4 separate regions of the Homo sapiens genome follow, and all the other regions are linked to region 1. Evidence: fine-mapped expression QTL. A gene starts in region 1. Each other region holds a variant in brackets. All regions are shown on one strand. Distances are between the middles of the regions.

Region 1 (8,110 bases):
ACTGGAGTTAGTTTGTGTTCTTGCAACCAAAAGAATCCTGACTAGAGTTCACGCTCTGAGGGGCCACTAAAGGATTTTTGCTGGAAAGTAGAATGATGACTGGGAATAAAATCATGGGATTAATAAAATGTAAGGGATAAGTAAAAAAAGTAAGTCACATGAGATGGAGACTGAGAGGCTACATCAACAGGAGAAAACCAGTGGAAAATGATGTTACAGAAGACAATGGAGGGCATTGTTTTAAGAAAGAAGTGGCAAATGTAGTAGAAGGATCAAGTAAGACTGAAAAGTGTAAACTGGATTTGGTAATTAGGTCAATGGTTACCTTTGCAAGAAAAGTTTCATGGGAGTGGGAGGGGGGCAAAAATTACAGTGTAGCTGAGACATGAAGGGGAGATGAGGAATTAGACATAAGTATTGATCACATCTTTAGGAATCCTGACTGAGATGAGAAGAGCTACAGGTGAGAGCCACGAGGAAGATTTTTGAAAAAAAACAACAACACATATTTATATGCTTTGGGGAGGGAGGATAGAAAGGGAGAGATTGATAGAGCCCTTAACCTGATAGAACTAACTTCCTGAAAAGAAAGGAGCATGAGATGGGAACATAAAACATAGCTAGAGAGATGTGCTTTTTATGTCCTCTAAGGATAGCAAAGTACCATGGTAATGCTTACTATATGCCAGTCATTGTGCCAAACACTTCAGATGTATTAACTGAATTAGGACTGGGTGAAGATAATGAACTTAGGAATGAGAAGCTGAAGCAATGTGCATCTGAAAATCAAAATTATCTCTGTAATATGAAGATAAGGTTATGTACTAAAAACCTACTAAAAGAGAAGGAAGAAGAAATGTAGGGAGCTTAAAAAGTGGCAGGGAACTTAAAAAGTGGTGGTCTGAAATATAGAAGAGGAAGGTGGTGACCAGAAACATATATAAGTATTTTTTGAGACAGAGTCTCATTCTGTTTGTTGCCCAGGCTGGAGTGAAGTGGTGAGATCTCGGCTCACTGCAACCTCTGCCTCCCAGGTTCAAGCAATTCTCGTGCCTCAGCCTCCCCAGTAGTTGGGATTACAGGCGTGCGCCACCACGCCTGGCTAATTTTTGTATTTTTAGTAGAGATGGGGTTTCACCATATTGGCCAGGCTGGTCTCGAACTCCTGAGCTCAGTCAATCTGCCCTCCTCGGCCTCCCAAAGTGCTAGGATTACAGGCGTGAGCCCTGTGCCTGGCCAAGTATTTTTGAAGAGTTAATTCAAATGACTGTGTCATTTTCTCTAGCAGTAGTCAGATACAGTAGTGTCAGAGCTCAGAGCCAGATTATATTGTCCCAAGGTTGGAAGTTTGTAAGTAGAGTGGGATAGAAAGACAAGCGGTCAAGACAGTTGACAGCTCTGGCAGAGGGTGGTTGAAGTGATGCTCAGTAGGGTTAGGTTAGATATAAAAGTAAAGCTAGGAGTGGATAATGATGGATAGGAGAAAAGACAGTAAAAAATTAGGATAGAAAGATTACAAACATGAAGAATCCATTGACTCTCTATCCCACTCCTTTCTGAGTGAACAGTCAATGCAGCTAGTTGCCACAACTCATGAAGGCCACCAAAAGAGGAAGCTCTGTCATCTTGGAGTTCAGGGATTTCTCCATAGAACAGAGTCCTCAGGCAGTACAGGTCCGTGCTATTCAAAGTGTAGTCCACTGACCAGTATCATTGGCATCACCCAGTAGTTTGTCAGAAATGCAGAATTTTGGGTCCCACCCCAGAACTGTTAAATCAGAATCTTCTTTTTTTTATTTTTATTTTTTTGATAGAGTCTCGCTCTATTGCCCAGGCTGGAGTGCAGTGGTGGGATCTCAGCTCACTGCAACCTCCGCCTCCTGGGTTCAAGTGATTCTCCTGTCTCAGCCTCCCAAGTAGCTGGGACTATAGGTGTGCACCACCATGCCCAGCTAATTCTTTGTATTTTTAGTAGAGACGGGGTTTCACCATGCTGGCTAGGATGGTCTCAAACTCCTGACCTCGTGATCCGCCCACCTTGGCCTCCCCAAGTGCAGGGATTATAAGCATGAGCTACTGTGCCCGGCCCAGAATCTGCTTTTTAACAAAATCTCCAAGTGATTCACATGCACATTAACTTTAAGAAGCACTGAGATAGAGATGAGGGAGTATGGATTCACCCTGGGTTTATTTGTCATAATACTACTCCTACCATGCTAGGAGAAATAAAGAGGAGACGTTCTGCCTTTGATGTTCTTTAGCACCCAGACTCAATGTATTCCCCCCTTTTTATTTATAACTTAAAGCCTTCCCCAAATGATTTGTAATCCTCTGCACTCACTGGTAATTGCATCCCAAACCCCACATGCATTCTCTTTTATGGTCAACAATGTCAAAACCCTATAGTATATATTCCTCTTTATCACATTTATCTCTTAACATCTTGCGATCAAAATGGGTTCTTCTTGATAATCCAGTCATGTTGGTGTAATTCTACAAATTTAACACATTCTATACCTATTAATAGAATATAACAGACATGACATTCCCAAGTGAAATCACCACTTCATAAAGAATTTCAGGCTGGGTGCTGTGGTTCACACCTGTAATCCCAGCACTTTGGGAGGCCGAAACAGGTGGATCACTTGAGGACAGAAGTTTGAGACCAGCCTGGCCAACATAGCAAAATGCCTTCTCTACTAAAAATACAAAAAGGTAAGCCGGGCACAGTGGCTCATGCCTGTAGTCCCAGTACTTTGGGAGGATGAGGCGGGTGGATCAAGAGGTCAGGAGTTCGAGATCAGCTTGTCCAACATGGTGAAACCCCGTCTCTACTAAAAATAAAAAATTAGCCGGGCATGATGGTGTGTGCCTGTAATCCCAGCTACTCGGGAGGCTGAGGCAGGAGAATTGCTTGAACCAGGGAGGTGGAGGGTGCAGTGAGCCGAGATCGCGCCACTGCACTCCAGTCTGGGCAACAGAGCAAGACTCCGTCTCAAAAAAAAAAAAAAAAAAAAAAAAATTAGCCAGGTGTGGTGGTCACACCTATAATCCCAGCTACTTGGAGGCTGAGACACCAGGATCACTTGAATCCGGGAAGCGGAGGCTGCAGTGAGTCAATATCGCGCCACTGCACTCCAGCCTGGGCGACAGAGCAAGACTCCGTTTCAAAAAAAAAAAAAAAAAAATTAGCCAGGTGTGGTGGTCACACCTATAATCCCAGCTACTTGGAGGCCGAGGCACCAGGATCACTTGAACCCGGGAAGCGGAGGCTGCAGTGAGTCGATATCGCGCCACTGCACTCCAGCCTGGGCGACAGAGCAAGACTCAGTCTCAAAACAAACAAAAACGACACGTCTCATACAGGACTTACTTCAATGACATATTACTTAATTGCCCTCCTGATCAGTACCACCTACAGCTCCCCTGTTATCCTGGTCTTTCCAGACTTATCTCCCTACAAAAAAGGAGACTGCTTCCGCATTTTCCCATTTCTGTCTTTCTCCGTCAATACTCCACATTCCGTAGCTAGCTGTGTTTGTTTAGACTTGCAACTGTTTCTGTGCAGGGTAAAGACTATCTTGATTTTCAGGATCACTCCACTTCTTCTTCATAGTTTCGTAATCTGAACATCAGGGTGTTGTACAAGATAAACTATAAGCTTCCTTTTGGTTTTAAAATTCTTTGATTTTATGTATTGTAGCCAAACTTCCTCTGCACAGAAAATATACCAGAAAATCAGCCCAAGTTCAATGAAATTCATTTAGTGCCAAAGACCATTCTAAGAATCCTGTGGTTACTACACACACACGCACACACACACCGTCTACTGTTGAGTCAGCTTTAAAGAGTGATGTCTTTTTCCTAACATTCTAGTGTTTTGAAGCTGCTACAAGTGATTGATTTCGAGCTTTTTTTAAAAACTCCTCCTTTGTACAAAACAGAACCGAAATTCTTCAAAACGAATTAAGTCATTTGCGAGTTTGAATGGAAGCTGGACGAAATTGCCTCCTCCAGTTAACGTGGAACCCATTCCCCAAGAGATGGAGGTTCTGGAGAGCAAGGCGAGTCAGCGTCAAACTGATTACGCAGATACCTGTTGGGGACGTCAGTGCTAATAGATATTTTGGTAACATATTTTAAGGACTAACGATGCTTTTTGTGATTCAGGCTTTCATCTGATACCAAGAGCAGAATCTCGTCGGCTTGCGGGTGTTTTTTTTTTTTTTTTTTTTTTTTTTTTTAATGAGCCGGTGCTTTTAAGCGCTGTTACCTACTGGGCCCAAGTAGGCGGTAGAAGAGGGAAAATAAAGCCATTTGTTCCCTCTTCAAGCTAACTGCTCCAGAGAGCTGTGAGTGTGCTCTACTACCGTTGGGAAAACCGAAATTGCGGAGGCCTGAGTCTTTTCAAAATTGAACGGGAAGCGTTTTTAAACTGCCGCAGGGAGAGGCGTTTGCGAGGTGACAGCTGATGACCCCTGGGCTTTTAAGTCCTCCTCCCCTCTCTCGGTCCGCTCTCGGTCCTTAATCGCCTCTGGACTCTGGGCTCTAGTCCCCTCCCCAGATTCACCCATCTGACACCCGCCTCCTGCCCAATCCCCCGGCTCGTCTCCAGGGCTCCCGCGCTCCGCCCATCCCCCTCTGGATGCTTCCTCTCTCTCTCTTCTTTCCCTCCCGCCAGCCACTCCTCGCGTCTTTCTCTCCCCACTTCCCTTCTTTCCCCTCACCCTCCAGCCCAGCCCACCCTGCTTTCTCCCTCTTTCTCTTTCCCGTAGATCCGCGCTCGCGCTGCAACACCTACTCCTCCCTCGGCTCTGGGAGTCGCCAGGCCAGAGGCGCCGCGGACCTGGTGCGCGCAGGCGCACTGCGCGGCTGGCGAACGGGCAGGCCGGGCATCAGCGCAGGCGCGCGCGGCTGGGGCTCGGCTCCGGGGGTGGCGGTCGGACAGTGTCTAGCACGCTCAGTCCGGGCTTGGGGCCCCGCGGCGGAGAAGGAGGTAGAGGGGGCGGCGGCGGCGGCGGCGGTGGTGGCGGCACCATGTTTCTTCACTCAGTTAATCTCTGGAACCTGGCGTTTTATGTCTTCATGGTCTTTCTGGCAACCCTGGGGCTGTGGGATGTCTTCTTCGGCTTCGAGGAGAATAAGTGCAGTATGAGCTACATGTTTGAGTACCCGGAGTATCAGGTAAGGTTCTGCCCTCTCCTCAGCCGGGCGCTCCAAGACTCTGGCCCCTGGTGCCTTTTTCCTTCTGTGGGTTCGTCCTGCCTTGGCTCTCTGCGCCTCTCGGGCCCCCTGTCCCGTCCTCGCCTCTGTTTTCTCCGCCCGGGGAGACTCTGCATCCCCCTTCTGCCCCCCTCACCTCCCCTTTGTGTCCCTTCTTCACGGTGGGGTGTTTGTTAGACGATTTCCCGAGAGCATCCTCGTGGTCGTCCTCGTAGTTACTCCGCTGTCCCTCCGCCTCCTCCCCAGCCCCAAATCCTGGGCACAAGCTCTTCTGACTGGCCGGGCCCAGCCCCCCTCATGCCCAGAGAGGCAGCCTCAACCCTTCTCCCTAAACCGAAGCTCCATCCCTCTCGCGTTCTTGCCTTAACCCGTGCCCCAGGACCTTCCTTTGCTTCCCACGCGCCTAAATTCCCCTCGCGCCCGGTGATCTGCTCGTCAGATTTCGCATTTCTAGAAAGGGACCGAGCGTCTGCAGAGTGTATATTGGCTAGATAGTTCCCAAGGCTGTTTTTAGAGACTCCAGGGTTTTGCCTATGGGTAAACTGGCGAGTCATTGAATTGGAAACTAGATCCCCTCTTGGAAAGATGTTGCAGATCCTCTTATTTTGCAGGTTAAGGGGCCGTGCGTGTGTGGGCTTGCCTGTGTGTGTGCATACCTGTGTTTATGCATGTCTCTCAGCAGCCGAGCCTCTTAATAGTTGCATACAAAATCTATTTCATGGTGCTATTTTTGTTTTCTCGCTGGGTTCGGAGTTTAAGAGAGAGCCAACCCTTCTCTCTCCACCCCTACCGCTTCCATGCCATTTTGAATGTTTTCAATCAATGGCTTCGTTAGTTCGGCATAGTAGGATCTAGAATTTCATTCATGACTAGCTGTAAAAAGAGGCGCAGACAAATTACACAACTGTCCTAAGAGAATTTTTCCGAATGATTCTTTTATTTCTAAGTGCATCTCTTAATTATGGACTACCTATTGTAATAATTCCCTACCATAAAATGTATATGCACTATAACATATATTGATAAAATACATTTTTAGTATACTCTTAAAATCACAGCAGTTTTTTTTTTAGGGTGAAGGATGCAAGTCCTGATTGCTTCTTTGTACAAGTCATTATGGAGGAAGCCTGTTACTTGATTACGCTGCTATTATTTTGATCTTAAGACTACTTAAGGTTTAAATTGCTGAAGAGCATTCTTTCCCATGGGAAAAATTCTAGTAAATTTAGATTTCATTTGTGTTTAGATCCTTACCTTGGTTTTGCATTTATGATGATAAGAGAGTGGAAACATTTGGTAGGGATGCTATCGAAGGAGAAGATTTTGACATGTTACTGTCGTCTCTGTTCATTTCTAAGCAAACCTTTTTAGTTTAGTATTTTAAAAAACTGAAAATAGAGCTATTATAATTCCCTCCTTATTTTTGGTTTAATAATTAGGAAACTCCCAATAGATTGAAGTAGGTCACTTTAGTTTTGTACCGCATTGAAGAGTTTGGTTAAAATCATTTTGTGACAGTACAGTACTAATTCCCATTTATTTTTAGATTTCCTACAATTATTGAAGCTATTTTAATATTCACAGAAGTAGAAATTGTTCTCTTTAGCGTTGGGAACAAAGCATATGGATCTCACAGACGCATTTCCTGCCTCATAAATTGACTGGAAAAACAGAAAATTAGTGTAGCTAATGGTAAAGAGCTCTTTGGGTTTTTATTGTTGTTGAGTAGTCTAGGTTTAGTTATTTTGGTTTAAGTTGCTTTTTTGGGGTTTTACACTTCTATTAATAATTTGCTAATACAGTAATAATCACAGTGGCAGAAGTTTTTGATTTTTAGCAGGTTTTTATGATGTAAAAAGCTGTGTTAATTCATGATAGTATTTATATTGTATTCTTAAGTCTTTTTGTTTTGCATACCAGGTCATGTTATCTTACAAATACAATTAAAACCAGCCTATAGAAATGAGTCATTTTGAACATAGTGAGATTTCTGGATAAATGAGGCCATTCTGTTGAGAACCAAATGGCTTTCATGAATAAAAATGTTTTAAAGATATTTTACATATTGCTTACTTTTAATTATATTTTATAGTCAGCTCTCTAATTGTTCACAGGTTGATACCCAGATGTGAGATGTCCTAGTCATTGGGTTTTCTTCTTTCTTTTGATGCCTTTCTTTTTTTTTACTGCTCATTTGCATCTTCTTTAGTTAGCCAGCAGAAATAGAAAGGTGGTTGAAACACATTCAGTTTTATTATCCATTTTTTTAAAAGATGGGGCATAAATTTGAAACTCTTTGCAAAAATGAAGTTTTGAATTTAAAATTGTTTGATTATCTCTATTCATCTTCTACCTCTGGTTTTCCCAGATTCACTTATTCAGAGTTAATTGAACATCTCACGAACCCATATCTCAAGCCTACTAGGCAAAATATACTTTATCCTTTAAAGCTTCTTGCCCTATTACGACAGCAAGGCAAAACTTTTATTTGGTAGCAAATGGTTTTAGGCAAATTGCAGAATTTTAGAAGAAACGTCTGAGTTGTTTCTCTCATACAGTGATTTGTCTGGCTATCTTCGTATGTGTAACCTAACGGTTGCTCTCTGAAAGGAAATGTTGGCGTGCGTCTATAGTCGCAGGTACTCAGGAGGCTGAGGCTGGAGAATCGCTTGAACCAGGGAGGCGGAGGTTGCAGTGAGCCAAGATTGTGCCATTTCACTCCAGGCGGGGCGACAGTGAGACTCTGTCTCAAAAAAAAAAAAAAGAAAGAAAAAAAGAAAATATGAGTCATATATTTTGTTATTAAGTGTGTTATTTATTTAGAAAGTCATTTATTGAATGACTAGTCTTTGCCAGGTATATCTAGCTACTTGGTGTAGGTGAAAGG
Region 2 (8,110 bases), 59 kb before region 1:
TTGAGCAGGACGACCCTCTCCAATCTGGGTAGCATGGTTAGCCTGTGCAGTAACAACGTAGGCTCGGAGGATGGGTACAATGAAAATGATTCTGATTCGGAAACGTTTTGACTTTGGACTGTAGAAGCTTTTCTTTGATCACCTGTGTTGGAGGAAAGGAAAGAAGCTTGAATTCCAGGTTTATGTTGTATTCAAGTATTATTTGGGGCCTGGGCTTCCAGAAGCTAGTAGAGAAGGAATTAATCGAGGGAGGGCAGTGAGGCTGTTGGGTGGAACAGTCACACAGATGGCCCCAGTTTTGTTTTGTTTCACATTTTCTTTAAATCTAAGATACTTCTGTGAAAGTCTACCTCTCATTTTAAATAAAGAATAAAAGATGTATTTAATTCCTGTTCTTTGGGGATAATGCAGCAGAGAGGCAGCTGTTCGCTATGAATAATTTTTCTTTTCATGTATTTAGCAGTGAGTTCTCAGAAGTATATCAGTGTGACATTCATGTCCCCTGGGAGGGAAGGGAAGAGGCAGATAGGAAATGCCTCAAACTTCTTCTCACTTTGATGTTTACTTCCTCACTAGAAGCCAAAGGTAAAGGTGTCCATCTTCAGAAATAATGCCTGTAATAATCTTTTTAGAGAGTCCAACTATTTATATCCTCTCTATAGTAAGCATTTGAATATCCAGAACTTCTTTCTGAGGATCTCTGTTAAAGTTGCCAGATGAATTGAAAAATTGAACTTGCTTTTTTTGTTTAACACAGTGTTCCCTATAACAAGCCTGTGACTAATTTTCACTTAAGTGATTGAACCCAAATTTATCTAATAACATTTCAGGTGAAAATTATATTGCACCAAAACTTTGACACAATATGCAAAAATAGTATGAAACTACCCTTTGTTAATTTATTCTTAAATCAAAATACTAACTTTTAAAAAACATCAGAATCATCAGCATTGTTCATCAGTAGTAAAATGAGCTTCTCAGTCAAGGTCATACCAAGTCAGTGAAAAGTGTGACTGCAAAAAGGAACAAAAAAAGTGAAAGCAGAAAGTAGAAATGGGTGATTTAGCATGTAAAACCGATTGCCAGTTGCTTGATGATGAAATCAACATAGTGAATACTGTGTCTGCTCCCTCTGCCAAAGCTTCTAGGTCAAATGGACCCCGTTCCACACCTGGAACCGCTGTACAAAAAGAAGAATGAGACTCTTTAAAAATTATGCACATACACATGCACACATATATGTGTGCGTGTGTATATATATATATATGTGTGTGTGTGTGTAGTTCATCAGCCAGCTACACATGAGGACCAAAATGCTTCAGTCTAAAATGGAAGATACACATTTTTTTCCTTCAAAATGCAAGTGAGAACTGAAGTAGCTTTTTTATGGAGTTAAATGTAATCTTTCTGTGTACCAGTCTTTGTTGTATTTTATATTTCTTAGGACACAGATTTCTAGTTGACCACTTAACATTTGTAACTGATGATGTGCTGACCTTTTTTTTTTTTTTTGCCAAACTAGAGAAAATGTCCATATACTTTTGCTGTAAATGTGTTTATATTTATTTGAAATGAAACAAATGGTGAGGAAACATCCATTATTTGTTCTCTATTTTAATTGCTATGTATCTTATTTAGAATAACAAAAAAAAAGTGAAAAAAAAAACACTTGACCCTGGGCTAGCCAAAAGCCCAAGGGCCAAACCTAGCATTTCCACTGCTAAGGTTTCCAGATGACCCTCAGGTTCTTCCGCGTTGGTTAGAGAGGGCTACGCATCTTCTACTGCTCAGCCACAGTCTGTAGCCAGCTTAGAGCTTAGAAGACATTGCAGTCTGGATGCCCTTCTGCGAGATGAAAACTCAGATGTGTAGTGGATCATATACACAAAGGCAGCACAAAGAAATATCTAGAAATTACCCTAAGTACACTGAAAAGCTCACATAGTCTCAGTAACCTGATGAGAAATGATGGCAGTGTGTGGGCACATGTGCCAAAAGGAGAAATAAAAATCACCAGCTCAAGTGCTATTTTCTACTTGAGGAAGAGACAGAAAAGAAATGTGTCGAATTAGAGCAGTACTCTCTGACGTTTTATAATGAGTTCCATTTCCACCCTGGAAATTGCTATTTTATAGTGTATGTGAGATATTTCAAAAATAATGTTCTATCATATCTGGATCAAAGACAGATAACTGTATTATATTTTTCATCTAGCTATAAAACTTTAATCTTACTCTTAATATCCTGGATTTAATTAAAACTCCTGTTGGGTTCTTCACAAATGAGAACTTGTTCAAAGGATTTATTGAACTGGTATTGATTTCACTGAAAATTTTCCACACCACCACCATTGTTTTTTTGAATTCTTGGTGTTGTGCTTCCCACCTTCTGTCCTTTTCGTTTGTTTAGAGAAGATGAATTTTTAAAAAGCAGATAAATTGCTAATGAGCAATAATGACCTTATCTTTACCAAAACACTGAAAATTAAGAGAGGTTCAGTGTTGAAGAAGCACAATATGCTGCGGTGTCTTTTTCTAGAAGTGAATGGAAATCTTGCTCAGTTGGCATTTCAAGCAGGAAATGAAATGCTTGCTTTAATGGCAAAGCAGCGTTAACATTTTTCCTGTCGTGTAGCAGAGAGTACAAGAATCATTTCAGCAAAGCAGTGACTCACCATGAGACGTTATCTCCATGGAGCTGCGTTTTGACTTTTCCCACTCTCTTACTCATAGAAGGAGGACAAAGGAACGAAATGAAATCATGCTCACAATGAACTGTTCATTACATCAACTGATCTCTCTCTCTCTCTCTTCCTCTCTTTCTCTTTCTCCCATACCCCAAGGCAAAATTTTTTTAAAGAAATGACTTTAAAAACTATCATTTCTGTATTTTAATTACATCTCTTAGAAATAAAATTATGTTTGCACCATAGCTTTCTAAGAAAAAAAAATGTGTTTTTAACTGAGTCTTAGTTGCTTAGTGCTTTTATTTGTGTTATTTTTAGACTGTATTTTAACCACAACTACAAGGATCATGTTTCATTGCACTTACTTATTTGCCAGTGTCTGCCTGTCTTTGCTAAATACATTACTATCTCCAAATTGCCTAAAATCTGCTATGATTCTACAGTAAATAGCTCAGGGTATTTCTATTTATCACTACTAAAAGGGCACCATAGTATGTTTTGGTACTTTAGGCAGTAAACACTGCTTGGTTTATCATTTTGTTATTAAATTAGAACAAGAACATCAAATGGATTTGCTGCACTAGTTATTCTTTGTACTGTTGAGCAACTTGGTGTGCTTATATGTTGTGTTGGTTGAAGAACTCATCCGTTTTATTGTCTTGTAATATGAAGTTAGAGTGCCTTTTTATATTTGTATATTCTGAAAATGTTCTGTGGAATGTTTTGTATTTTTTCATTTGAGTGTTATCAGAGCAATATGATACCAGTGAGTTTTCATTTCAACTTTTCTTTGAATGTATAAAGTGTCTTTTTTCCTATTTCCCCTTGTACTTGCATTGAAATGAATATGAAAATGCTTAAGTTTTCTATAGGAATTGTTTGATTTTGCAGTGCTAAAATGCTTTCGTCTTACGAAACTATAAACCATAGGTCAGTATTATAGGGGAAAAGCATTTTAAGATAGTGACAATCTGAGTGTTTGTATAAAATGTAATTCTATGCGTTTCTTATGTGATCTAAAAATTCAATGCAAATATCTTTTATTTGGTAGTTTTGTCTACATATTTTATGCTCTAGCATGTGCAATATATCTTTGTAAAGCACGATGATACAAATCTGGTGCCAGTGTTATATTTTGCATAACATATTTGTAACAGCATAAAATATTGTTTGATGATTTCAGTGGGATTTTGTCTATAATGTTTTCTTATGTAAATTGGAGTTGAATGACTCTGGTAAATGTCATGACTGTAAAAATGGGGAAAATGACTTTTAGTTCAGTGAATGACTTTGAAACAATCTGAATCTTCTCAAGCACAGTTTAATACTTTTGCAACTACTGAATGCTCTAATAACGTAATGAAGTACTTAACTGTAATATACTATGGAAATGCATTCAGATGGTTATTTTTACAAATAAAAACGGTACAAATATTGTTGGAATTTGTGTTTTAATTTTTCCAATTTATGCTTTTTCTAAATTATGCTAATTTAAATCTTTGCACCCCCTCAAGCCAAATTAACTTTAAATTTAGAAAATAATCAAGATAAAAGTGTATCTCCAGATTCACGATTTATGTTTGTGTTATCACAATTAGAGAAAAAATTCAAACATATATGCTTGTGTTTATTATATGTATTTATGCTTCCAACTTTTTTCCATAAAGGGTTTTGTTTTGTTTTGTTTTGTTTTGTTTTTTTCTGCTCTGTTGTCCAGGCTGATGGGCAGTTGTGAGATCTCGGCTCACTGCAGCCTCGACCTCCTGGGCTGAAGTAATCTTCCTACCTCAGCCTCCCGAGTAGCTGGGACTACAGATGTGCACCACTATGCCTAGCTAATTTTGTTTTTTTGTAGAGATGGGGTCTCACTATATTGCCCAGGCTGGCCCATAAAGGATTTGAGCTGGGTTATGACAAAAGACGTGATAAACTAGAAATAGAAAAATGAGAACAGAGAAAAAGAATACAAACAGATAAAGGAACCATAAAATTTAAAACAGTATCTGTGACTGAACTTGTGTTTGCTCTCAGCTTCCTTGCAGCCAAGGTAAGAGGAGAAATGTGATCAGTTATATAGTCCACATCAAAAAAGAGGAAGCTTATTAGGTCCTCAAAATTGTGAAATCAACCATGCCTAACTTTGGTATTGTCACCATTACCCTTCAGGGACTTTATA[A/G]CAACACAAGAACCTCCATCTCTGCACTATCCTTAAAGGTATCCATAGAATTTCCTTCCCCATCTATCTCACCATCCAAAATTTTTCATCTTGAGTAGTAACTTCAGGGACAGTCTCTGGAAGCACTAAGGAACAAATTCCTAATGATGGAGTTTCCAGCTATTGACGAAGAGACTTGGGGGTGGTGCCTGCCTGAGTTCCCCAAATCAAGTAGTATAGAATGTTAGCAGTTATTACAGTCCAGCCCAGTCACATCACCAGCTCTTTCAGGAAGAAACTGAATCCTAGAGAAGTTATACAACTTGAATTTTTGAAGATAGTGATCTGATGATACCACATCTGCCTCTAGATGTTCTCTCTTCGATGCCATCTTGCCATATAATGTTTTGTTTTTTTCTGCCAGAAATGTTAAGGGAGGTTTTGTACTCAGCCCTGCCTCCCTTCTTATTCAAATATACAAATCTGGGTGCTTTTCAATCTTAAAGAATGTAAAACAGGAGTCACACCACAAGTGAGTGCTTCCTGTTGTTTAGAGTAGACTGGGTATATTAGTTATCTATTGCTGTGTAACAAATTACCCCAAAACTTAGTGGCTTAAAACAACAAATGTTTCCTAACCCACAGTTTCTATGAGTCAGCCCTAGTTTAGCTGGGTCTTCTGTTCCAGGGTCTCTCACAGCCTGTAATCATGGTGTTGGCCTGGGAACGATCCATTTCTAAGTTCACTCATATGGTTGTTGGCAGGATTCTTCTCATGGGTTGTTACACTGAGGGCCTCAGTTCCTTGATGGCTGTTGGCTGCCGTCCGTTCCTTGCCAGATGGGCCTTCCCATAGGGAAGCTCACAACATGGCAGCTTGCCTTGCGGGCGAGCAGGCTGAGAAAAGCCAGGGAGACAAAGAGCAAGACAGAGTCACAGATTTTTGCAACTGAATTTCAGAAGTGATATTTCATCATTTTTCTCATATTCTATTCATGAGAAGCAAGTTACTAAGTCCAATCTATACTCAAGGGCAAGGGATTCCCCAAGGGTGTGAACAGCAGGAACAGCAATTACTAGGAGCCATTTTTGGAAGCTACTCGCCACCCTGGTCTATCACGGTGTCCTTTGAGGCTGTAACATCATACTAATACACCTTCTTCCCAGTCATTGCTAAGGAAATTGCTTGCTTGACTGACTGAACTCACCCTTTCAAGGAAAATGTAGAGATCCCTAATTTTAATTGTGTTCTCATAAGCAGAGAAATGTGATAATGGCCTCCACTGTGGTAATTATATTTTTGAACATTGATGTGGCACTTTGTCTTCAAACTGCTTGTCAAAGGTTCCTTCACGCTAATTCCATTTGGTAGGTTTAGATCCCTGTATAAGTATCCCTCACTTAACACACTTAATGTGTTCCAGAATTAGTTTGCAAAGCACAAAAGCATTAAGCTAAAAGGCTATTAACATAAAAACATTGTGGGTAAAAGTACTATATGAATTGTCTCTTTAGCAAATTTCATCCTGAAGGTACATTTGCTGTAAAATATAAAGCACCAAGATAATGGCTGTGCCATTCATTAATTCTCAGGCACTCTAGGGAGTGATTGGAAATGTGTGGGCATTTGTAGTTGGCACAATGGCTGGGGGGTGGGCAGGGCTGCTACTAGAGTATTTATAGTTCCAAGCGCCAGGGAGACCAAATGTGCCACTCAACCCAGGGAATAACTGCGCCACTTAGAATGTCAATGCTCCTCTACCCCACTGCTCACCTATTTGCCTTTCTCTTGTTTCTGAATCATTTCTTCATCAATGTATTGCTTATGACACTAGCCATATTGCCTCATCTATTTTCACAAGGGATTGCATAAACATACTTTATATGCCCTCAGAACGAGAACTTACAAGGTTGAGAAAGAACTTTGGAAGGCAATGCTGAGCACATGTGCCCTGGTTATGTATTTTTCCAGGGGAGAAGATTTGCACAGATCAAGGCATCTTTAATTCCTTTGTTATCAAACCAAAATGTGGCCATACACATGTATATTTCTTGTCTTAAGCAAGAGGTGATTGTATCTACTTTCCCAGTGGGGGGAACTCCTGCTCACAAAGGTGGGGCACTTGGCCCACCGTCACATGGCAAGCTCTGACAACACAGTACTTCAGCCTCACAGGGTTCTCTAGGCACTGGTGGACACAATTTCTAGGATACTATTTTCTGCTTTTAAATGTCAATTTAATGAAGTACTGTGTATTACATTCTGGAAGAATTTTATAATTTTCAAAAGTAAAAATACTGAAGCAGTACTTTTAGAGCACAAAAAGCTTACCTGTGTTTGCATTGAGTTGAAAGTACCCAGCAAATTCGTGAACTTTATTTATATTTTTTATAGTTGGGGTTCCTAAGAATTACTAACATTTAAACTCAGATCCTAACCACAAGAAATTACCAGCTATGCAAAGATCAGAGGAGAGAACATTCTAGGGAGAGGAAAAGGCTAGTGCCAATACCCAAAGGCAGGAATGAGTTTGTTATGTTCTAGGAACAGAAATGGGGCCAGTGTGGCTGGAGACTCAAGGGAAAGGGAGGGTGGCAGAAGATTAACAGCGATCTCAGCCCAGACATAAAATTTTGTGAGCTGGGAGGAGTTTCTATATTTTTCTGAATGTGACAAAAGCCACTGGAGAAATGTAAGCAGAAAAATGGCTGTGGTCTGATTTTTTTTTTCTGTCATTTTTATTTTTTATTTTTTATTTTTATTTTAAGTTCTGGGGTACATGTGCAGAACATACAGAATTGTTACATAGGTATACATGTGCCATGGTGGTATGCTGCACCTATCAACCCGTCATCTAGGTTTTAGGCCCCGCATGCATTAGGTATTTGTCCTAATGCTCTCCCTCCCCTTACCCCAACCCACCAACAGGCCCTGGTGTGTGATATACCCCTCCCTGTGTCCATGTGTTCCCATTGTTCAACTCCCACTTATGAGTGAGAACATGTGGTGTTTGATTTTCTGTTCCTGTGTTAGTTTGCTGAGAATGATGGCTTCTAGCTTCATCCATGTCCCTGTAAATGACATGAACTCATTCTTTTTTATGGCTGCATAGTATTCTATGGTGTATATGTGCCACATTTTCTTTATCCAGTGATTTCATTTTTAAAAGATCACTCTGGCTGCTGTTGAGAGACAAGAGAGAGAAACCCTAGTGACCAATTAGGTAGCCACTGCAATAGCCTAGACAAGTAAATATAGTGGCTTGGAT
Region 3 (8,110 bases), 310 kb after region 1:
GTGTTTGATATACTATAGAATACTGAAGAATTAGAATGAATAATTCAATCTACCATACTCATTAACAGGAAAGTGGTTAAGTAATAATAGTATATCCATACTAAACAGCTGTCAGAAAGAATGAGTATATATGAATGTTCTAAAATGGAAAATATTCACAATACATCACTGAATGAAAGAAACAAGTTTAAAATATCTATAATATGATCCTTTTTTATTTTAAAAAATGCACATACACATATTTATTTTATATGCATAGTAAAGAGATAAATACACAAACTGTTAACAGCATTTATCTCTCAGTATTAGAGTTGGGAGATGAAGAAATAACTTCGATTTTATACTTTTATGTACTTTTGTATTATTGGAAAAATTTTTCATATATATGTATTACTTTTTTTTTTTTTTTTTGAGATGGAGTCTTGCTCTGTCACCCAGGCCAGAGTGCAGTGGTGCAATCTCTGCTCACAGCAAGCTCTGCCTCCTGGGTTCACACCATTCTCCTGCCTCAGCCTCCCAAGTAGATGGAACTACAGGCACCCACCACCACGCCTGGCTAATTTTTTTGTATTTTTAGTAGCGATGGGGTTTCACCACGTTAGCCAGGATGGTCTCGATCTCCAGACCTTGTGATCCACCTGCCTCGGCCTCCCAAAGTGTTGGGAATACCGGCGTGAGCCACCGCGCCCAACCATATATGTATTACTTTTGTGATGAAAAAACGAATATAAACAGAACAAACAAACAAATAATAAAAGAAAATGACTGACAGCAATATTTTTCTTTTCCATGTATTTTCTAGTTGATGATACATTTTCCATTCCCTTTTCCCAGCACATGAAATAATAAAGTAACAAATCTAATATCTAGAAGTTTTAAATTTGAGCTTCTGCCCCTGCAAAACTTCATTCTGCTTAAAAAATGATCTACTTTATTCCTCATAATCACCCTTAGAATTGTGGGGTACATCTTAATTCTATTGGGTATCATCAGAAACAGAGCATTCCTAAGAGTATTTGAAGATTTTCTGAGTTTCTTGATAGTTATTTCAAATATGGTATTTTTCTGTTTTAAAAATTCCATTTCTTTCTTTTTAATAGTTTCTATTTCTTAGTTGAGAATGTCTGTCTTTCAATTCATTTAGAGAGTGTTTACCTTTACCTTGTGGAGTATGTTTATAATAGCTGCTTTGGAGTCTTTGTATGATGTTTCCAACATCTAGATCAGGAGTTGGCAAACTACAGCCTATGTGCCAAATCCAAACTGCTGCCTGTTTATGCATGGCCCACGAGCAAAGAATTGTTTTGTTTTCAGTTTTAAATGGTTTGGGGGGAAATCAAAGAAAGACTAATATTTCATGAAACTAAAAATTACATGAAAATCAAATTTTGGTTTCCATAAATATAATTTTTTTGGAACATAGCCATGCTTATTTATTTACATATTGTCTGTGACTTTTTTGTCCTAAATGACAGAGTTGAGTTATTGTGATGGAAACCATTTGGCCCCCATGCCCTAAAATATTCCTTCCATCCAGCTGTTTACAGAAAAAGCTTGCTCCTGATCTGAGTTAGCTCAGGTTTTGCATCTGTTGATTGTCCTGTCCCTTGATAATTGGTCACATTTTCCTGGTTCTTTGTATGTTGAGTAATTTTGGATTGTATCCTGGACATTTTGAATATTATTTAATGACTTCAGGGCCTGTTATATTCCTCTAGAATGTGGATTACTTATTGTTTTAACAGACAATCAACCCAGTTAGATCATACCTCAAGCTCTATTTCAATCTCTGTGGGAAATGGTTCCAATGTCATTTTAGTTTTCAAAGACTTCACTATACTGCTTTACATCTTTTTCATGTATGCTCAGCTCGGGGTGAGCTTGGAACATGTGTTGGTTTATACTCAGAATAAGGGATTTTCTTCTCCAGTTCCCTTCTCTATGATATCTTCCTCCTTCTCTACAACTCCTGAGGGCCCCTCCTTCCAGTCCTCTGGTTAGAAGGATGGGATTTCTCTCATAATTACAGCTACCCATGCTGATGCACAGCTTACACACAATTAGAGTTGCTCTTAAATCAACACCAGCAGAGAGAAGAGGGGCAGAGAAGGAAAACTTACCCAGTACGAGTCATTCACTAAGCTTTGACTCCTTTCCACAATCCACCTGCTATTGTTTTCCAGCATCTTGAGGTAGCTACTTTTTGTGTATTGTCCAGAGTTTTTATTTACATAAGGTTTTGACTCCTGCCAATAATTAAGGGGTTGAAATTTCCAGAAAATAAGCACATCCTAAACAATGTCTTGATAATCCTTATATCACTATTTGGCAATAATTTAGCTCTAAAATCATGGTCTTCTTGGGATTAAGCATATGCAAAAGGCAATATCATGGTGGATTTACAAGGACCAACAATTCCGTTGACTCCTGAGGTTCTTTACTAGAATAGAGTAGGTGGATCAATTCCTATGATAAAACCAAGTTGACCTGAGTAAAGAGGTTTACAGCCTATCAGAAAATGTAAGTATACTCAAAGTATTTATTCTGTTAGATTTAATGCAAGAAGTTGAATGGTAAATGAGGCCAGGACTCTTGTTTGCAAGTGACAAGAAGAAAATAAGAAAATAATTTTTTGCAAGACCAGAGGTGGGGTTAGGGTGGTAGAAAGACTAATGGCTCCCCAAAGATATCCATATCCTAATCCTCAGAATCTGTGAATATGTGTTTTTCATGGCCAAAGGGGATTTGCTCATTAAAATAAAAATCTTGAGATGCAGAGATTATCCTCCGTTACCATGTCCAAATATAATTAAAGGGTCTTTATAGCAGAAAGAAACAGAAAGAGGGAGGCAGGAGTGTCAGAATCATAGAAGGAGATGTGATGATGGAAGCAGAGGTCAGGGAGATGGAGAGAGAGAGAGAAATTTGGAGGTGTTGTACTGCTGGCTTTGAAGATAGAGGAAGGGGCAAGGAGCCAAATAATGTAGATGTCTCTAGAATCTATAAAACGTAAGGAGCCAAATTCTCCTCTAGAATCTCCAGAAGGACCAAGCCCTGCTAACAACTTTCACCTCTCTTCAGCCCTGTGTCCCCAGAGTTAAATGGGGCTTTACCCTTTGGAGCCATTTAGGACAACCTCAGAGGAGGACTTTGGCTCCGGTCAACTGCCCAACCATTGAAACAATCATCTGAATAAATGGGAAAGAACATAATTATAAGCCAGAACCACCTGAGTTACTTGCAGTCCCCCTTGACTAGGGAGAAGGTAATGTAGTTGCAGTTACACTAGAAACACGTGGAAAAAGTAACAAATTTTCCAAAGGAGAGAAGGGTGCTGATCAGCCAAAGAGAAGAAGTCTTCGCCATAGTTGGTCCTTTCACTGATGAGACCCAGCAAGGCCATAGCAATGACAACGTCAACACATATCCCCAAATTTCCATTGAGATTACCAATTTATCATACCATTTCTAACACCATAATCTGTCTCCTCTTCTATCAGCATGTCTGCACTCACTTGTCCGGCTTACCTGCTGCATCATTTAATATTAGATTTTGCTTTGAGTGACAGTAAATGCAAAATAATGATAACTTGAGGTGTGTGTTTATGATGAGAGGGGGAAAACTCAGTGAGGCACTCTTTGTTGGATCTTCTCCCTTCTCTGTTTCACTTTCTCTGCCCCCTTATTTCAGCTGCCTGGGATCATCCCCTAAATAAACAAATTGCATTTCTCTACATAAATGAAATCTGGAGGTAGATAGTTCAGGGCTGGCAGATGCTCTGCAGTGCCAGGGCCCTGGGCATTTTCTATCTTGTTGTTTGCCATCCTTAACAAGTTATTTCAACCTCAGGGTCCAAGATGGCTCCTCAGGCTCTACCCATCATGTCTGTATTCGAGAATGCAAAAAAGAAGGAATAAATAAGAACCTATCTCTTTCCTAAAGATATTTCCTGAAAGTTGAATAGATTCCACTTATCAGAATATAACCACATAGCCACATGTAGCTGTGAGACAGGACAGAAAATGGAGGTACGTTAGTGACAGTGTGCCCAAAATCAGCTTCTGTTACCAAGAAAGAAAGGGGAAATACATATTGGGAACAGCCCAGTGGTGTTGGTCACTTCACCTCCTAGATTCTTTAGGACATTGAATCATGATTGCCTCTACAATTTACCTAATCAGTCAGTTTACTTCTGGTCACATATAAACATCTTCTCCTGGACTCCATAATCTGTTGTTTCTGATGTTGTCATCATGAACATTTAGACACACTGCTGGGTGTGTCAGGCCTAAACTTGGATTGCTAGCTCTCCCCTCTCTCCATCTATGCCCGATTTCTACCATATTGTGTTTTGTGGTTATTAATTCGTGTGAGATAGACAGCTATAAAAATGTAAGGACTCAAAGTAAATATCTATTTCCAAGGATTCTGTTGTCTTTGTATGTCTGCTAACCCTTTTTTGCCTCCCACAGTGTTGTCTTCAAACTCTGGTTTTAAACCATCCTCACCTCATCACCCTCCTCTTCCTTCAATGCCTCCAGTAGGTCCAGGGAGGGAGACAGCGCTAATAACTTTTGTGAAAAGTACATGATTTTCTCTCCCAGAAGGCCCAGAAAACACTTTCTCACATGTTATTGGCTCTGGGTAATAGCTTCAATAAATGACTGACTGGGAGAATTTTGCCTCCTTATTATTTTATTTTATTTTATTTTTGCAATAGGTTCTCATTCTGTTGCCAAGGCTGGAGGGCAGTGGAGTGATCTTAGCTCAC[C/T]GCAGCCTTCAACTCCAGGGCTCCGGTGATCCTCCTGCCTCAACCTCCCACGTAGTTAGGGCTACAGATACATACCACCATGCCCACCTTACATCTTTAATTATTATCTTCTATTTAGAATATTCCCCTGGCTTTTGATCTTCTGTGTATAGATATGCCCAGACAGCCATTTGTTGGGGGAGGAGGGAGTGGGTAGAAAAGAGCACATAAAAATAAAACAAAAACAATTATTTGACACTGGTTATCAAGCCACCAGCCTGAAAATGAGTGGGGAAAATAACTGAACTAGAGGGAAAAACAATCTGGCTCTGTCAACTTTCTAGCTGTGTGACTTTGGGAAGTCACAATCTGAGACTTAGTTTCTTTATTTGCAATATAAAGGTGTAATAGTTCAAATAATAACTAAGAAAAACTCAAGATTTCCTTTAATTTGCAATATAAATAATTTTCTAAACTGTTTCCACTTCTTTTATCTGTCTATTTTTAGGCACTGTAATTGGATGGTGATCTTCAGTACTTTCCCTGCAGTGGCCATCGGGGATGGTACTGTTGACCTCCATCTTGCAGGGTCCTGGTGGCTTTAAAAATTCTTGTCTTCATTCTTTCTGAACTTTCTGTAGCATGTAACACCATTGACCATCCTTGTTCTTCTGGGCACACTGTGTTTACTTCAGTTTTAAGATAGAGTACTCTACATCAAACACAGATAGACTCCCAACCTCAAAACTGAGCTGAAGCTAGGTTCTCCACTCTAACAAAACTTAATGAGTCTCAGGGCAGATGGAAGCACAGGAGACAACTGGCTACCAGGTATGGTTCTTTTTGTAACCATGGTTCATCCATAGGGATGCTCTTTTGCCTGGTTACCACATATTTCCCTGTGGCAGATGACAGTTTCCTTTACCCCTTATGAGTAGCTTCATGTATGTTCTTGGAGCCCAGGTCTAGGATGGTGAAAAAAATCCCTTCTCATCTGATTTAGGATCCTCCTCTTCCCAAGATGATTGGCAGTGAAAATAACCATGCCCTTCATAACAGCTCACATATCCTCCTCAACATGACACCTCAGAGCACAGCATCCAATATCAATACAGGAGATGCACACCCATAGCAGTAGGATTACAATCTTAAATGTCCCACTTCCAAATAGCAAAGAGACAAAAAACATTTCTTAAACATTTCTCAAACCTGTGTTGTTATATTTTCAATAATATCATATCCTTGACAGCAGCAATTCAGTCCAAGGTGAGCTTTGCTAAACCCAGCCTGGTTCCTTTTATGACTTCTTCTCCCGTGTGAGATGAATAAAGTGTCTGAACATGCTTCCTGCAGTTTTGAGGATTACAGGGCCTTATCTGTAATAACTGTTCAAATGAGAACACAATAATCTCAACAAAACCCAGCAACATTTGCAGGCACAAGGCAGTTTAAATCTACTTACAGAAAACATTTCTCCGAAGAGGACATGGTTTGCAGATATTCAGCTCTGGCTATAGCATAGAAAAAAATTCATGATCACAAATGCAGTTTAGCTTCTTAGAATTCACAACAGACACTTGGGTGTCCCAAACAACACTCTTAGCCCAGGTGATTCCAGCACAGCTATGGCGGACAATTCCAAGCACAGTGCCACATTCGACCTCAAATGTGGGCAGTGGCATCTCTCTGCCTTTCTGCTTCAAGGCTTTCTTTGAAAAACAGAAGGCCACTCAGCCCAACCCAAGCAGATTCAGCTGAAAAGTTCAGGGAAGAGCATAGGAGGAGGCGGCAGTTGCTCCCGGGCCAACCCTTAACCAACTCCAGTTGCCCACAGCTCAGTGAGGCACTCTTTGTTGGCTCTTTTCCCTTCTCTGTTTTACTTTCTCCACCCACTTATTTCAGCTGCCTGGGATCACCTCCTAAATAATCAATCTGCACCCAAGTCCTTTCTCAGATTCAGGTATTGGAAAAACCCAATCACTAAGAACTCCAATATCTACACTGTCTTATATGGGTTCTGGTTTTCTTTTGTGCAATTAAATGTTTTATTTGAGTTTTTTCAAATTAAAACTATAACCCACATCAGAGCTGCATTCAATTCTCAGTGCCTTCCTTTTTTTTTTCTTTTTTTTTTTTTTTTTTTTTTTGAGACGGAGTCTTGCTCTGTCGCCCAGGCTGGAGTGCAGTGGCGCCATCTCGGCTCACTGCAAGCTCCGCCTCCCGGGTTCACGCCATTCTCCTGCCTCAGCCTCCCGAGTAGCTGGGACTGCAGGCGCCCGCCACCACGCCTGGCTAATTTTTTTTGTATTTTTAGTAGAGACGGGGTTTCACCATGTTAGCCACGATGGCAGTGCCTTCCTTCTAACACACAAAGACTGATTGCAGCTCTGAGATGTCACTGAGCCCTATCCTCAACTTTCTACTATTTCCACCAATGCTTAGGAGATCTTAGGCCTGTATTGAGTCAAGACTCAAGCTCAAAAAACCATGTTCAACCTCCCACCAGCTTTTTCTAGAAAGAAGAAGCACATTTGAAAAACATGCCCTAGAAATGGGAGCTTGGTCCTGAGCTGGGGGCAGAGGAAAGGCTGCTTTCCTATTTTACATCTTGCTCCTGCAACAGTCTCTGCCTTCTCCCTGTGCAGTTAATAACTGCATTTTCTGCCAAACTCTATATGAGGTGTGAGCTGACTTAATTCATTAACTGACCACTTATTGCTTGGATCAGACACTATGCTAACTGTGGGGTAGCAAATTAATAAGGCAAAGTTCCAGAAGACAAGGGCCTCGCTGTCTTGTAAGAAAGACTGAAATCCAAACAAGTAAGCCACCTCCTGTGATGGAAGAAAGTCGAGTAGGCTCAGGAGGGGCATCTTATTTGGATAGGGGTCTGAGAAAGTTTTCTGGAGGAAATGGTGTCAGAGTTAAGTGAAAAGCGATGAACAGGAGTTATCCAGTTGAACAAGGGCAGAAAGGGAGCCCCAGGTGGGAGGAACAACCTGTGCAAGTGTGTTTGGTAGTGAGAAAGCAAGGTCCATGTGGGAAACTGAAAGTGCAGTGTGACTAGAGCAGAAATGCTGAGGAATGAAAGTAGGCACTACTTAGATCGAAGTTATGATAAGGAGTCTGAACTTTGTCTTGAAGCTGTCTGAATTTTGTCAGTAAGCTACTGATGTCATTTACTTACAGAATGAAATGGTTAGATTTGTGCTTTAGAGAGATAAATTTGGTAGTCCTATGAGATTGAATTGGAAATAGTAAAGGATAGAGGCAGAGAGACAAATTAAAAGGCTAAGGCAGTGATATGGCAGGCAAATAATTCTAAAGGCCTGAATTTTCATATGGCGTACTTAATTGAC
Region 4 (8,110 bases), 240 kb after region 1:
ATTTACATATTAACTTCAAGTATATGTACAATTAAAACGTTTTAGGTAGGTTTTTTATTTTATTATTATTATACTTTAAGTTTTAGGGTACATGTGCACAATGTGCAGGTTAGTTACATATGTATACATGTGCCATGCTGGTGTGCTGCACCCATTAACTCATCATTTAGCATTAGGTATATCTCCTAAAGCTATCCCTCCCCCCTCCTCCCTCCCGCCTCCCCACAACAGTCCCCAGAGTGTGATGTTCCCCTTCCTGTGTCCATGTGTTCTCATTGTTCAATTCCCACCTATGAGTGAGAATATGCGGTGTTTGGTTTTTTGTTCTTGCGATAGTTTACTGAGAATGATGATTTCCAATTTCATCCATGTCCCTACAAAGGACATGAACTCATCATTTTTTATGGCTGCATAGTATAAACAGAACCAAAGACAAAAACCACATGATTATTTCAATAGAGGCAGAAAAGGCCTTTGACAAAATTCAACAACCCTTCATGCTAAAAACTCTCAATAAATTAGGTATTGATGGGATGTATCTCAAAATAATAAGAGCTATCTATGACAAACCCACAGCCAATATCATACTGAATGGGCAAAAACTGAAAGCATTCCCTTTGAAAACTGGCACAAGACAGGGATGCCCTCTCTCACCATTCCTATTCAACATAGTGTTGGAAGTTCTGGCCAGGGCAATTAGGCAGGAGAAGGAAATAAAGGGTATTCAATTAGGAAAAGAGGAAGTCAAATTGTCCCTGTTTGCAGATGACATGATTGTATATCTAGAAAACCCCGTTGTCTCAGCCCAAAATCTCCTTAAGCTGATAAGCAACTTCAGAAAAGTCTCAGGATACAAAATCAATGTACAAAAATCACAAGCATTCTTATACACCAATAACAGACAAACAGAGAGCCAAATCATGACTGAACTCCCATTCACAATTGCTTCAAAGAGAATAAAATACCTAGGAATCCAACTTACAAGGGATGTGAAGGACCTCTTCAAGGAGAACTACAAACCACTGCTCAATGAAATAAAAGAGGATACAAACAAATGGAAGAACATTCCATGCTCATGGGTAGGAAGAATCAATATCATGAAAATGGCCATACTGCCCAAGGTAATTTACAGATTCAATGCCATCCCCATCAAGCTACCAATGACTTTCCTCACAGAATTGGAAAAAACTACTTTAAAGTTCATATGGAACCAAAAAAGAGCCCACATCGCCAAGTCAATCCTAAGCCAAAAGAACAAAGCTGGAGGCATCACACTACCTGACTTCAAATTATACTACAAGGCTACAGTAACCAAAACAGCATGGTACTGGTACCAAAACACAGATATAGATCAATGGAACAGAACAGAGCCCTCAGAAATAACGCCGCATATCTACAACTATCTGATCTTTGACAAACCTGAGAAAAACAAGCAATGGGGAAAGAATTCCCTATTTAATAAATGGTGCTGGGAAAACTGGCTAGCCATATGTAGAAAGCTGAAACTGGATCCCTTCCTTATACCTTATACAAAAATTAATTCAAGATGGATTAAAGACTTAAATGTTAGACCTAAAACCATAAAAACCCTAGAAGAAAACCTAGGCATTACCATTCAGGACATAGGCATGGGCAAGGACTTCATGTCTAAAACACCAAAAGCAATGGCAACAAAAGCCAAAATTGACAAATGGGATCTAATTAAACTAAAGAGCTTCTGCACATCAAAAGAAACTACCATCAGAGTGAACAGGCAACCTACAAAATGGGAGAAAATTTTCGCAACCTACTCATCTGACAAAGGGCTAATATCCAGAATCTACAGTGAACTCAAACAAATTTACAAGAAAAAAACAAACAACCCCATCAAAAAGTGGGCGAAGGACATGAACAGACACTTCTCAAAGGAAGACATTTATGCGATCCTATATCTCAAAAACCCTATTGCCTCAGCCCCAAAGCTTCTTAAGCTGATAAGCAACTTCAGCAGTCTCAGGATACAAAATCAATGTGCAAAGATCGTTAGCATTCCCATACATCAACAACAGTAAAGCTGACAGCCAAATCATGAATGAACTCCCATTCACAGTTGCCACAAAAAGAATAAAATACCTAGGAATACAGCTACTAGGTAGGTGAAAGGTCTCTACAAGAACTACAAAACACTGCTCAAAGAAATGAGAGATGACATTAACAAATGGAAAAACATTCCATGCTCATGGATAAGAAGAATCATGTCATTAAAATGGCCATACTGCCCAAAGCAATTTACAGATTCAATGCTATTCCCATTAAACTACCATTGACATTCTTCACAGAACTCGAAAATACTATTTTAAAATTTATATGGAACCAAAAAAGAGCCTGAACAGCTAAGAAAATCCTAAGCAAAAAGAACAAAGCTGGAGGTACCATGCTACTCAACTTCAAATTATGCTACAGGGCTACAGTAACCAAAACAGCATGCATGGTACTGGTACAAGAACAGACACATAGACCAATGGAACAGAATAGAGAACCCAGAAATAAGACCACACACCTTCAGCTATCTGACCTTTGACAAACCTGACAAAAACAAGCAATGGGGAAAGGATTCCCTGTTAAATAAATGGGACTGGGATAACTGGCTAGCTATATGCAGAAGATGGAAACTGGACCCCTTCCCTATGCCATATACAAAAATTAACTCAAAATAGCTTAAGGACTTAAATATAAAACCCAGAACTATAAAAACCCTGGAAGACAACCTAGGTAATACTATTCAGAACATAGGCACGAGCAAAGATTTCATGACAAAGACGTCAAAAGCAATCGCAACGAAAGCAAAAATTGACAAATGGGATCTAATTAAACTAAAGAGCTTCTGCATAGCAAAAGAAACTATCACCAGAGTAAACAGACAGTCTACAGAATGAAAGACTATACATCTGACAAAGGTCTAATATCCAGCATCTATAAGGAACTTAAATTTGCAAGAAAAAGACAACCTCATTAAACAGTGGGCAAAAAGCATAAACAGATACTTCTTAAAAGAAGACATAAATGTGGCCAAGAATCATATGAAGAAAGCTCAACATCACTGAACATCAGAGAAATGTAAATCAAAACCACAATGAGATACCATCTCACACCAGTCAGAATGACTACTATTAAAAAGTCAAAAAATCAAATAATAACAGATGCTGGTGAGGTTGTGGAGAAAAAGGAACACTTGCACACTGTTGGTGGGAGTGTAAATTAGTTCAACCATTGTGGAAGACAGTGTGGCGATTCCTCAAATTCCTGAAGACAGAAATACCATTTGACCCAGCAATCTCATTACTGGGTATATACCCAAAGGAATATACATCATTCTATTATAAAGATACATGCATGTGTGTATGTTCACTGGAGCACTATTCACAACAGCAAATACATGGAATCAACCTAAATGCTCATCAATGATAGACTGGATAAAGCAAATGTGGTACATATACACCATGGAATACTATGCAGCCATAAAAAAGAATGAGATCACGTCCTCGTGATCATGGATGGAGCTGGGGGCCATTATCCTTAGCAAACTAACACTGGAACAGAAAACCAAATGTTGCATGTTCTCTTATAAGTGGGAGCTAAATGATGAGAATATATGGATACACAGAGGAGAACAACAAGTACTGGGTGTGTCAGAGGGTGGAGGGTGGGTGGAGGGAGAGAATCAGGAAAAATAATAATATCTGGGTGATGAAATAATCTGCATAACAAATCCCCGTAACACACATTTACCTATGTAACAAACCTGCACATGTACACTGAACTTAAAAGTTAAAAAAAAAAACCTAGGTGTGACCACTGAGGTTTGTGTAAGTACTCTCTATTGCACGACAACAAAACTGCCCAGAGATGCATTTCTGAGAATGTATCTCCATCAAGTGACAACCTAACTGTATTAGAAGATTCAATATTGCTGAGATGTTAACTCTAATTTCAGTTGAAATCCCCACAAAACATCATTAAGGTCATTCTAAAACATACATGAAAAAGCAAATGAACTAAAATAGCTAAAACACTTTAGGAAAATAACACCGTTGGAGGACTCTACCTAATTTCACGATTTATTATAAAGCTACAATAATCATAGTCTGTGGAAAGGCTACTGTGTTGTTGAACTTGCCCAGCTGTGGGTGCAGCCATGTACCAGGCAGCCCAAGCCTGACATAAAGTAAATTCCCAGGAGAAGTCTTTCCTGGGTTTTGAATTTGCAGTAACAGGTGTAAGCATTCCAGCAGCAGTTTGTTGATCATGTGATATCAGAAATGCAAGCTAAAGGACAGTTGCCAACTGTGGGAATGAGTGTAAAAGACATGCCCCAAAACAAACATAAGTAAACT[G/A]TTGAAAGCAAGAGACACAAAATCTTGAAAGTATCAAGAGAGGAGTGGCTCCTGATGTACAAGATAATCTCAGTAAGATTAACAGCTGATTTCTCATCAGAAAGTTGAGGCCAGAAGGCAGTGGGATGACATATTCAAAATGCTGAAAGAAAAACATTCAACCGGCTGGGCGCGGTGGCTCACACCTATAATCCCAGCACTTTGGGTGGCTGAGGCGGGCGGATCACGAGGTCAGGAGATCAAGACCATCCCTGGATAACAAGGTGAAACCTCGTCTCTACTAAAAATACAAAAAAAATTAGCCAGGCGTGGTGGTAGGCGCCTGTAGTCCCAGCTACTTGGGAGGCTGAGGCAGGAGAATGGCATGAACCCGGGAGGTGGAGCTTGCAGTGAGCCGAGATGGCACCGCTGCACTCCAGCCTGGGTGACAGAGCGAGACACTGTCTCAGAAAAAAAAAAAAGAAAAGAAAAAGAAAAACATTCAACCATGAATTCTAAATTCAGCAAACCTATCCTCAAAAACAACAGAGAAATTAAGACATTCCCAGATAAATAAAAATGGAAATAATTCATACAAGAGCTTTTCTTCTAGTTTAAACACACTCTTGAGAATGTGGTTCTTCAGACTTCACCTAAAACGTGGAGTAATTTCTCCAGGTCCCCATTTTTGATGGGGTTTGGATTGTGAAGCTAGAAAGCATACGCTGTAAGAAATACTAAAGGAAGTTCTTTAGGCTAAAATAAAAGGGCACTAGACAATATCTGGAATCCACATAAGAAATAAAAGGTAACAGTAAAGGTAGCAACATAGGTGTATATAAAAGGTAGTATATATTTTTGTTTGTAATTCTTTTTGTTACCTATAAACCAAAATACAGAATAAAAGAAATGATAAGGGAGTTAAAATGGTGAACTAGAAATATATATTTAACATAAAAGATGGCACTAATTGAGAAATAGAGGAACAAAAAGCAAAAAACGAAACAAAAAAAGCAAAATGGCAGATATAAATCCTACCTTAACAGTAATTATATTAAATACAAATGGATTAAACCACTGCAATTACAAAGCACAGAGATAGGCAAAATTAGTTTTTAAAAAAACAACTATATGCTGTTTATAAAATATACACTTTAGATCCAAATACCCAAATGGGGTTGAAAGCAAAAGGATGAAAAATATATACCATATAAATTAAACAGTAATCTAAAAAGAGCTAGAATGATTGTACTAATATTAGACAAAATAGACATTAAGAAAAAACTGGTGAGATAAAGGGCATTATACACTGAAAAAGTGTTTACTCATCAAGAAGATGTATCATTTATAAATATATATGCACCTAACAGAGGCCACAAGTATATGAAGCAAAAAATGACAGTATTGAAGGAACAAATAAATAATTTAACAGTAATAGTTGGAGACTTCAATACCCCATTTTCATTAATCAGCAGAACAACTGGACAGAAGATTAATGCGGAAACAGAAGACATGAACAACACTATAAACCAAGTAGACCTAACGGACACCTATAGAACAATCCTCCCAATAATAGCAAAATACACATTTTTCTCAAATGCACATGGAACATTCTTCAGGGTATAACCCTGTTATACCACAAAACAACTCTCAATAAATCTGAAAGGACTGATATCATGCAAAGTATGTTCTCCAACCACAATGGAATAAAATTAGAAATCAATAAAAGAATATTTGGGGAATTCACATATGTGAATAAACTAAACATGTCACTTCTAAACAACCAATGGGTCAAAAAAGAAATCTCAAGGGAAATTAAAGAACAGTTTGAGATAAACAAAAATGAAAACACAAAATAACAAAACATCTCATATGCAGCTAAAGCAGTGCAGAGAGGGAAATTTATAGCTGCAGAAACTTATTTTTTATTTTTTTATGGGCACTCCCCTGAACCAGAATAGGTTCAGAGTGACTCCTATAGGCACTTACATTTAAAAAATGAAATATTTCTCAATCAATAACCTAAGCTTTTTTTTAGAAACTAGACAAAGAAAAGCAAATTAAACCCCAAGCAAACATAAAGAAGGTAACAAGATTAACGCAGAAATAAGATAGAGAAAAATCTATAAAAACTTCCACAAGTTGGTTCTCTAGAAAGATCAACAAAATTGACAAACCTTTAGCTGGACTAACCAAGAACAAAATACAGGAGACACAAATTATTAAAATTAGCAGTCAGAGAGAGAACTCTGCTACTGACCTTACAGAAAGAAAGACAAGGGGCTACTCTGAAAATAGTATGCTAACAAATTAGATAGCCTAGATGAAATGGACAAATTCCTAGAAAGAACCAAACTACTGAAACTGACTCAAATAAAGGTAGAAAATCTGCATAGACCTATAAGAATAAAAATAATAAACCAAACAAAGAAACAAAACCTTCTACATACAAGAAAGCCCAGAACCAGATGGCTTCACTGGTAAATGCTACAAAATATTTAAAGAAGAATTAACCCCAATCCCTCACAAACTCTTCCCAACAATAGAAATGGAGGGAATACTTACCAAATGGTTTTAAGAGACCAATATTATCTTGATACCAAAACCAAAAAGATTACAAGAAAATAAAACTACAGAACAGTATCCCTTATGAATATAGATGCAAAAAATCTTAACAAAATACTAGCAAGCCTAATGCAACAACATATAAAAAGGACAACATGACCAAATAAAATTTATCCAAGGAATGCAAGCTTAGTTTTCCATTTCAAGTCAATCACTGTAATACACCATAGTAATAGAACAAAGAACAAAACCCACAAGATCATCTCAATAGACACAGCAAAAGCATTTAACAAAATTCAACATATTTTCATGACAAAAATTCCCAACAAACTGAGAATAGAGGGGAATTTTCTAATCCTGATGAACAGCATTGAAAAAACCCCACAGTTGACATCATACTTAATGGTGACAAACTAAAAGCTTTCCCCCGAAGATCAGAAACAAGACAGAGATGTCTGCTCTCACCAATTCTATTCAATACTGCACTGGAGATTCTATCAGGCAATTATATACGAAAATGAAATAAAAGGCAGCCAAATTGGAAAGGAAGAAGTGAAACTATCTGTATTACAAATAGACATAGCAAATAGAGAGCCCAGGAGTTCGAGACCAGCCAGGCAACAGAACAAAACTCCATCTCTACAAAAAATAACTATCTCTATTACAAATAGAGATAATTTATAGAGATATAGTTTATAGAGATAGTTATAGTGATGACACTATCTTATACAGTAGTCCTCACTGTCATTGATAGGTTCTTGGAGACTGCAACTTCAAGTGAAATGATAATGCATAACAAAATCCATTTTTTTCTTATCAACATCATAACACAACACTGAATGAAATGATGTTATTCAAGGACCTGCTGTATGTCGTTTCACTTGAAATTGAAACCTAAGAACCTACTGATGACATTAAGTGAGGACATACTTTATACAGAAAATATACAACAAATTGTATTATTGAGATTGTAATACTCTTCAAATTGATCTACAGATTCAATGTAAACCTTACCAAAATTCCAGCTGTTCTTTTTTACAGAAATGGAGAGTCTGGTCCTAAAATTCATATAGAAATGCAATGACCCAGAATGGCTAAAACAATCTTTAAAAAATAACAACAAAAAAAAAAGTTGGAAGATTCACATTTAGACGTCAAAACTTCCTACAAAACAATAGTAATCAAGACTGTGT

Which allele goes with the higher level. Alleles are on the strand shown, and positions count from the first base shown. SD is a standard deviation of normalised expression in the study named. Not every link is listed here.
As copies of A replace G in region 2, the expression in monocytes after LPS of the gene that starts at base 4,947 in region 1 goes up (small effect, 0.36 SD a copy in Quach 2016).
For the expression in sun-exposed skin of the gene that starts at base 4,947 in region 1, A is the high allele of the variant in region 4 and G is the other (moderate effect, 0.42 SD a copy in GTEx).

Evidence for each region. PIP is the estimated chance that this variant, and not a neighbour inherited with it, causes the effect.
Region 2: its variant is fine-mapped to the expression of PGAP1 in monocytes after LPS (Quach 2016, PIP 0.95). The same link has a PIP of 0.9 or more in monocytes and monocytes after Pam3CSK4.
Region 3: its variant is fine-mapped to the expression of PGAP1 in whole blood (INTERVAL, PIP 0.96).
Region 4: its variant is fine-mapped to the expression of PGAP1 in sun-exposed skin (GTEx, PIP 0.93).

The regions. Positions count from the first base shown.
Region 1 is chr2:196,923,544-196,931,653 of GRCh38, reverse strand. It overlaps PGAP1 (post-GPI attachment to proteins inositol deacylase 1), which reads left to right and starts at 4,947. Exons shown (of 27, transcript NM_024989.4): 1 at 4,947-5,184. The coding sequence starts at 5,038. RefSeq lists a silencer at 4,749-4,998.
Region 2 is chr2:196,982,681-196,990,790 of GRCh38, reverse strand. It overlaps ANKRD44 (ankyrin repeat domain 44), which reads left to right. Exons shown (of 28, transcript NM_001195144.2): 28 at 1,142-4,129. The coding sequence ends at 1,200. Among named protein-coding and RNA genes, the nearest start is that of PGAP1, 60 kb to the right of the region's middle. The variant A/G (reference allele first, on the strand shown) is at 4,863.
Region 3 is chr2:196,617,312-196,625,421 of GRCh38, reverse strand. No RefSeq gene overlaps it. Among named protein-coding and RNA genes, the nearest start is that of CCDC150, 18 kb to the left of the region's middle. The variant C/T (reference allele first, on the strand shown) is at 4,773.
Region 4 is chr2:196,682,340-196,690,449 of GRCh38, reverse strand. All of the region lies in intron 13 of CCDC150 (coiled-coil domain containing 150), which reads right to left. It also overlaps LOC124900529. Among named protein-coding and RNA genes, the nearest start is that of CCDC150, 47 kb to the right of the region's middle. The variant G/A (reference allele first, on the strand shown) is at 4,374.